Linked DNA regions of Homo sapiens. The protein of the gene in region 1 purifies or fractionates together with the protein of each later gene. This does not show direct contact. Each region holds a gene or a part of one and is shown in the gene's direction. Other genes may lie near its edges. The genes, in order: PRORP and PALD1.

Evidence for each region.
Region 2: the proteins of PRORP (region 1) and PALD1 purify together in Homo sapiens (co-immunoprecipitation; one large-scale study listed by IntAct). This does not show direct contact.

Annotation. Positions count from the first base shown.
Region 1 is NC_000014.9:35,128,995-35,132,809, forward strand, and holds part of PRORP (mitochondrial ribonuclease P catalytic subunit isoform 1 precursor), read left to right. Parts: intron 1-3,815.
Region 2 is NC_000010.11:70,481,712-70,485,526, forward strand, and holds part of PALD1 (paladin), read left to right. Parts: exon of another isoform or gene 1-1,353; intron 1,354-3,815.

The DNA of each region.
Region 1 (3,815 bases):
GAGACCGGCCTGGCTAACATAGTGAAACCCCGTTTCTACTAAAAATACAAAAAAAAAAAAAAAATTAGCTGGGCATGGCGGCGCACGCTGGTAATCCCAGCTACTCGTGAGGTTGAGGCAGGAGAATCGCTTGAACCCAGGAGGCGGAGGTTGAAGTGAGCCGAGATCACGCCATTGCACTCCAGCTTGGGCAACAAGAGTGAAACTCCATCTCAAAAAAAAAAGATGCATATTTAGGTTGTTTATTTTAAGTTTTTCTTCTGTTTTGATATAGGCACTTATAGCTGCTTTTGTTATATCCCACCGTGCCTAGATACATTTAATGTTATTATTGATAAGTAAGGACTTAGTCCTGCCATTTTGTTTTCTGGTTGTTTTGTGGTCTTATTTTTTCCTTCCTTTCTTCCCTTTAGTGAAGATGATTTTCTCTGGTGATATAATTTAGTTTCTTGCTTTTTATTTTTTGTGTATCTGTTGTATTTTTCTTTTTTTTTTTTTGAGATGGAGTATTGCTCTGTCGCCCAGGCTAGAGTGCCGTGGTGCGATCTTGGCTCGCTGCATCCTCCACCTCCTGGGTTCAGGAGATTCTCCTGCCTCAGCCTCTTGAGTAACTGGAATTACAGGCGCACACCACCATGCCCAGCAAATTTTTTTTTTTGTATTTTTAGTACAGACAGGGTTTCACCATGTTGGTCAGGCTGGCCTCGAACTCCTGACCTCATGATCTGCCTTCCTCAGCCTCCCAAAGTGCTGGGATTATAGGCGTAAGCCACCGTGCCCAGCCTTGTATGTTTTTTGATTGGAGGTTACCATGAGGCTCACTAATACTTAACTATAGCCTATTATTTTAAGCTGATAATAATTTAACACTGTATAAACAAACAAGCAAAAAGAAAACTAATAAAAACTCTACACCTTTACTTTGTCTCCCTGCTTTTTAACTTTTTATTGTTTCTATTTATATCTTACTGTACTATCAATGTCTTGAAAAGTTATAGTCGTTATTATTTTTGATTGGTTCATTGTTTAGACTTTCTTTTTTTTTTTTTTTTTTGAGACGGAGTCTCGCTCTGTTGCCTAGGCTGGGGTGCAGTGGCACAATCTCAGCTCACTGCAGCCTCTGCCCCCCAGGTTCAAGTGATTCTTCTGCCTCAGCCTCCCGAGTAGCTGGGACTACAGGTGCCCGCCACCATGCCCGGCTAATTTTTTTGTATTTTTTAGTTGAGACGGGGCTTCACCATGTTAACCAGGATGGTCTTGATCTCCTGACCTCATGATTTGCCCGCCTCGGCCTCCCAAACTGCTGGGATTACAGGCGTAAGGCACTGCCTCACTAAACTCATTGTTTAGTCTTTCTAAAGATAAGAGTAGTTTTAGTTTACACACCATAGTTACAGTGTTATAATATACTATGTCTTTTTGTGTACTTATTATTAACAGTGAGTTATGTACCCTCAGATGATTTCTTATTGCTCATTAATGTCCTTTTCTTTTTTTTTTTCATTGAGATGGAGTCTCACTCTGTCGCCCAGGTTGGAATGGAGTGGCACGATCTCAGCTCACTCCAACCTCCGCCCCCACTGGGTTCAAGTGATTCTTGAGTCTTACCCTCCCAAGTAGCTAGGATTACAGGTACCCTCCACCAGACCCGGCTAATTTTTGTATTTTTAGTAGAGACAGGGTTTCACCATGTTGGCCAGGCTGGTTTCGAACTCCCAACCTTACTTTATCCAGCTGCGTCGGCCTCCCAAAATGCTGGGATTACAGGTGTGAGCTACTGCACCCGGCCTATGTCCTTTTCTTTCTGCCATTTTTTTTTTTTAAATATAGAGACAGGGTCTTACTATGCTGCCCAGGCTGGTCTCAAACTCTTGGGCTCAAGTGATCTTCCCACCTTGGCCTCCCAAAGTGCTGGAATTATAGGCGTGAGTCACCAGAGTAACGGTCCTTTTCTTCTTCTTCTTTTTTTTTGAGGCAGTCACTCTGTCGCCCAGGCTGGAGTGCAATGGCGCGATCTCAGCTTACTGCAACCTCCGCCTCCTGGGTTCAAGTGATTCTCCTGCCTCAGCCTCTGAATAGCTAGGATTATAGGCGTGCACCACCAGACCTGGCTAGTTTTTGTATTTTTAATAGAGACGGGGTTTCACCATGTTGACCAGGCTGGTCTTGAACTCCTGACCTCAGGTGATCCACCCACCTCGGCCTCCCAAAGTGCTGGAATTACAGGCATGAGCCACCACAGCTGGCCATCCTTTTCTTTCTGATTGAAGTACTCCTTAGCATTTATTGTAGGATAGGTCTGGTGTTGATGTAATCTCTCAGCTTTTGTTTGTCTGGGAAAGTCTTTATTTCTCCTTCATGTCTGAAGGATATTTTCACTGCATATACTATTCTGGGGTAAAAGTGTTTTTCCTTCAGCACTTTAAATATGTCATGCCATTCTTTCCTGGCCTGTAAGGTTTCCACTGAAAAGTCTGCTGCCAGATGTATTTTAGCTCCATTGTATGTTATTTGTTTTTTTCTCTAGTTGCTTTTTGGTTTTTTTTTTTTTTGAGACAGAGTCTTGCTCTGTCACCCAGGCTGGAGTGCAGTGGTGCTATTTCGGCTCACTGCAACCTCCACCTCCTGGGTTCAAGCGATTCTCCTTCTTCAGCCTTCCGAGTAGCTGGGATTACAGGCATCTGCCACCATACCCAGCTAATTTTTATATTTTTAGTAGAGACAGGGTTTCACTATGTTAGCCAGGCTGATCTCGAACTCCTGACCTCAGGTGATTCGCCTGCCTCAGCCTCCCAAAGTGCTGGGATTATAGATAGGTGTGAGCCACCACACCTAGCCAATCCTTTCTTTTTTTCTTTTTTTGAGAAGAAATCTCACTCTTGTCCCCTAGGCTGGAGTGCAGTGGTGCTATTTTGGCTCACTGCAACCTCCGCCTCCCAGGTTCAAGTGATTCTCCTGCCTCAGCCTCCCAAGTAGCTGGGATTACAGGCACCTGCCACCACGCCTGGCTAATTTTTGTATTTTTAGTAGCGACGGGTTTCACCATGTTGGCCAGGCTGGTCTCGAACTCCTGACCTGAGGTGATCCGTCCGCCTCGGCCTCCGAAAGTGCTGGAATTACAGGCATGAGCCACTGCGCCCAGCCCCAATCCTTTCTTTATCCGTTGAAGGTTGGATTATTCAACTGGGTGTGGTGGCTCACACTTGTAATCCCAGCACTTTGGGAGGCTGAGGTGGGTGGATCAGCTGGGGTCAGGAGTTCGAGACCAGCCTGGCCAACGTGGTGAAACCCCGTCTCTACAAAATATATAAAAATTAGCCAGGCGTGGTGGCGGGCCTCTGTAATTCCAGTTACGTAGGAGGCTGAGGCAGGAGAATCGTTTGAACCTGGGAGCCGGAGGTTGCGGTGAGCCAAGGTCACACTACTGCACTCCAGCCTGGGCAACAAGAGCAAATCTCCATCTCAAAAAAATAAAAAACAAGAAAAAAAAGAAAGTTGGATTATTCGTCCAGGCATTGTGGCTCACGCCTGTAATCCCAGCACTTTGGGAGGCCGAGGTGGGTGTGAATCACCTGAGTTTAGGAGTTTAAGACCAGCCTGGCCAACATGGTGAAACCCTGTCTCTACTAAAAATAAAAAAAAATTAGCTGGAAATGGTGGTGCGTGCCTGTAATCCTACCTACTCGGGAGGCTGAAGCAGGGGAATCATTTGAACCCGTGAAGCGGAGGTTGTAGTGAGCCAAGATTGCGCCACAGTACTCCAGCCTGGGCGACAGAGTGAGACTCCATCAAAAAAAAAAAAAAAAGGGAAGAAG
Region 2 (3,815 bases), on another chromosome or scaffold:
CACACATGTAGCTGCGTCTGTGATGAGAGCCACTGCCCTCTGGGGCGGGCTCCTTCTCTGCTAAGCCGTGGGCTTGCACAGGGAAGGGGTCCCCCACCTGGCTATGCTCAGGTCTCCTCTGCCCAACCTGGCACCTGAGAGACAGCCCAGATTCTAGATATGCTTTGATACTAATGCACCATGCAACCTCCAGCAAGTCAATTAATGTATTGGTTTCCTCATCTTTAGAGTGGGGTCAGTAACCTCTACCTCCTTGTGGGTTCAGTGGGAGAAAATCAGTGCAAAGCATGTGGCCCAGTGCATGGCATGGAGTGAGTGCTCAGTTGATGTGGCGGTGGGGGCCTTTGATTATGAGCCATCCCCTGTGGCCAGGACTCTGCAGGGCTTCCTCAGCAGCCAGGTGCATGGCCCTGGGCCTCTGGGTGAGGTCTGGAGCAGGCTGGGTGGGCCAGGCACCTCTCCTGTGAAAGCTGGAGGGCTTTGTCCTCAGTCGGTGCCCACTAGTCCCTCCTTAGCCCTGTGGGACCTCCATACACGGGGTCAGGAAATGGCAGGCTGGGCGGGCGTATGGAAGCTTGGGCCTGCTGACTGCTGGGCCTCTGGGAGGGGAGCCAGTGTTTGCTAAGAATAGTCCCAAATCATGGCTTTCGTTTCCCAGAGGGCAGCCCAGCCATGTGCTGCCCCTGTCTTGGGCCAAGGCACTTGCAGATGGACTTTTTATGTTTCCTGTAACTGGTGCTCAGCACAGGATTGAGCCTGGGAGCAGCAGGCTTAGTCTGGGAGGAGGCTCTGTTTGTCTTCCGAGGCCTTTGGCTGGGACCCGGGGAAAGAGAAGGTCTGGAAGCACTGGCCTTTATAATCCCTGAGTTCCTTTTCCACTCAGGGCTTTTCCTGACACATCTGCCTCGACCATCTTCCTACCTGCAAATAGACCTGTTGTGATTAAGAACACTGGCTCTGGAAAGAAACTACCAGGGTCTGAATTTCTGCTCCCTCCCTCATTAGCCATGTGGCCCAGGGCAAGAAACTTAACCTCTCTGTGCCTCAAGTCCCTTGTGTAACAGGGTTAAGGATAGCAACTCCCTTATGAGAATGTCACAAGGATGAAAGGAGGTAATCGCAGAGAGCCTCCGAGGCTGTCTGGCTCCTAGGAAGTACTCAGTAAACATTAGGTGCTTATGTTATTACCACGATGTTATTCTCTCAGCAGAGGCCAGGATGCTTGCACAGGACCAGTTGGTGGGAAGGGACCAGCGTGGCATCTTGATGTGGGTTCCTGAGCTTTCTTGGCCCTGGGTTCAGTATGAGGTGCAGGGGCTCCGAAGGTAGATTAAACTCTGTCCCTGCCAGGAGGTGAGTGAGGTACATGCAGACACCATGTCTGGTTCTGTGATGGGGTCTGTGCTAGTTATGGTTGGAGCCTGAGGGAGGGAATGGCTGGCCTGGGGTGTGTGTGATACTTCACGTGGGCTTTGAGGGATGGCCAGGAGTTTGCAAAGGAGGAGGGCAAGGCTTCCCCAGCAGAAAGAGCAGCGTGGCAGAGGTGTGACAGCCCTTGTGAAGCGTTTTGTGTATTTCCCATAACTGGCATGTGGGCTGACTTTGGCTTTAAGGGGTGCCCCTGCCTGGGCTGAAGCTGGGGCACTGATGAGAGAGGCAGGTGGGGTGTCTGGGTCATCTGCACACCCATGGAAGGCAGTAGAGAACATCTTTGGGAACTGGGTGTGTCACTGCCAATGCTTTGGGCTCCCAGGGAGCTGGGGCTTTCAGAAATTCCCCAAGGAGAGAGGATGTGGTGCTGTGAGGGCTGTGGGTACCCTGGGAAACGGCCAACAGGCTGGGCTGGGGCCCATGGGAGGGGAGAGGGGTGGGTGCCCTGAGATGACCTGGGACCCTGCCAGCTTCTGCATCCTGCTGAGCCCCAGGCCCTTCCTCTCTGTGGGCTGTGCCGGCCTCTGTCTGGCCTTCCCAGAATGGAGGCCTGGGACGCTGGGACATTTTTCGAAGATTCTGTTTGGAAAGCACAGAAGGGACTTCTCCTCCCCTTTTCCTTTTCCTGGAATGGAGAATCTCCTGAAGGAGTTAACCCCTTTCCTGCTGGTCACAGAGTGGCCCATGGATGTGTCCCCGGCTTTTTTTAGGATCACTGTTTTATTGTTGCCCTTTCTGTTACACGGGATGTATACATCAGGTGCTGAAAGGTACAACACATTCTGCAACTGAGTGCCACCTTCCATGATTGAACAGGCAAAGAAAGTACACTGAACATCAGCATCTGGCAATATATTTTTTGTTTGTTTGTTTTTTTTGAGATGGAGTCTCACTCTGTTGCCCAGGCTGGAGTGCAGTGGCGCATTCTTAGCTCACTGCAACCTCTGCGTCCCAGGTTCAAGCAATTCTCGTGCCTCAGCCTCCTGAGTAGCTGGGATTACAGGTGCCCACCACTACGCCCAGCTAATTTTTGTATTTTTAATAGAGATGGGGTTTCACCGCATTGGCCAGGCTGGTCTCAAACTCCTGATCTCAGGTGATCTGCCTGCCTTGGCCTCCCAAAGTGTTGGGATTACAGGCATGAGCCACCGTGCTCGACCCCAATATTTTTCTAAAAAAAGACTAAAATGGATTTAAATTGATTAACACTGTTAAATCACGTCTAATATTTGATACTACATGATTCAATATAGCTGAATGATGCAATGATAGAAAATGTGTTTACATCAAAGAATACAACCAAAATTAAGATAGCAAACAAAACCCATATACTTTTTTTAAACAGGAAAATACTTTTGAAGTGTACATGTAACTGCCCATTCTTTTATTTTATTTTATTGTTTGTTTTTTTTTTTGAGACAGAGTCTCGGTCTGTTACCCAGGCTGGAGTGCAGTGGCGTGATCTCAGCTCACTCAAGCTCCGCCTCCCGGGTTCAAGCGATTCTCCTGCCTCAGCCTCCTTAGTAGCTGGGACTACAGGTGTGTGCCACTATGCCTGGCTAATTTTTGTGTTTTTAGTATAGATGGGGTTTTGCCATTTTGACCAGGTTGGTTTCAAACTCCTGACATCAGGTGATCTGCCCGCCTCGGCCTCCCAAAGTGCTGGGATTACAGGCATGAGCCACTGCGCCCAGCTGCAACTGCCCATTCTTTTAAAGAAAATTTACTGCAAGCAAAGTTATCAACCTTCAGAAAATGCACACATAGTATTGCTAAGCATCCCCCATTCCAATATGCACACTTGGAAAATACAAAGTTAAACAAATTGTAAACAATAGGTGAGCTTCATATTTTTAAGAATATGGAAAGAAATCCCATTTTTAGCAGTGTTGTACAAAGAACTGTCTTTTCATGTGAAATTCATGAATTGTCCTTCTGTTGGGATCATACTTCACAAAACCACCATGTTTTTGAAACAAGATTACAGAGTACGAACATCTTAGCAATGTTATCTTATTATTAAAGTTAAATTTTTTTTTTTTACTATTTTTCAAAACATCTCCCTTAAGTATGTAGGATTCATCTTTAAAATTCTTCCTAGAAATAATATACAAAGGAGAGGTATGTTTATTCCCTGTTATACTTCTGGAAGGCACTTCCATGGTGGAGAAGGGGCTTCTTTCTCTTCTGTTCACTGATTGTTTTTGTCCTTGGTGTGTGTTAAGATGTAAGATTTCAGGTTAGTTGTCTGAGCAAACTTCTTTTTTTTTTTTTTCTTGTTTTTGAGACAGAGTTTCACTCTTGTTGCCCAGGCTGGAGTACAATGGTGTGATCTCAGCTCACTGCAACCTCTGCCTCCTGGGTTCAAGCGATTCTCCTGCCTC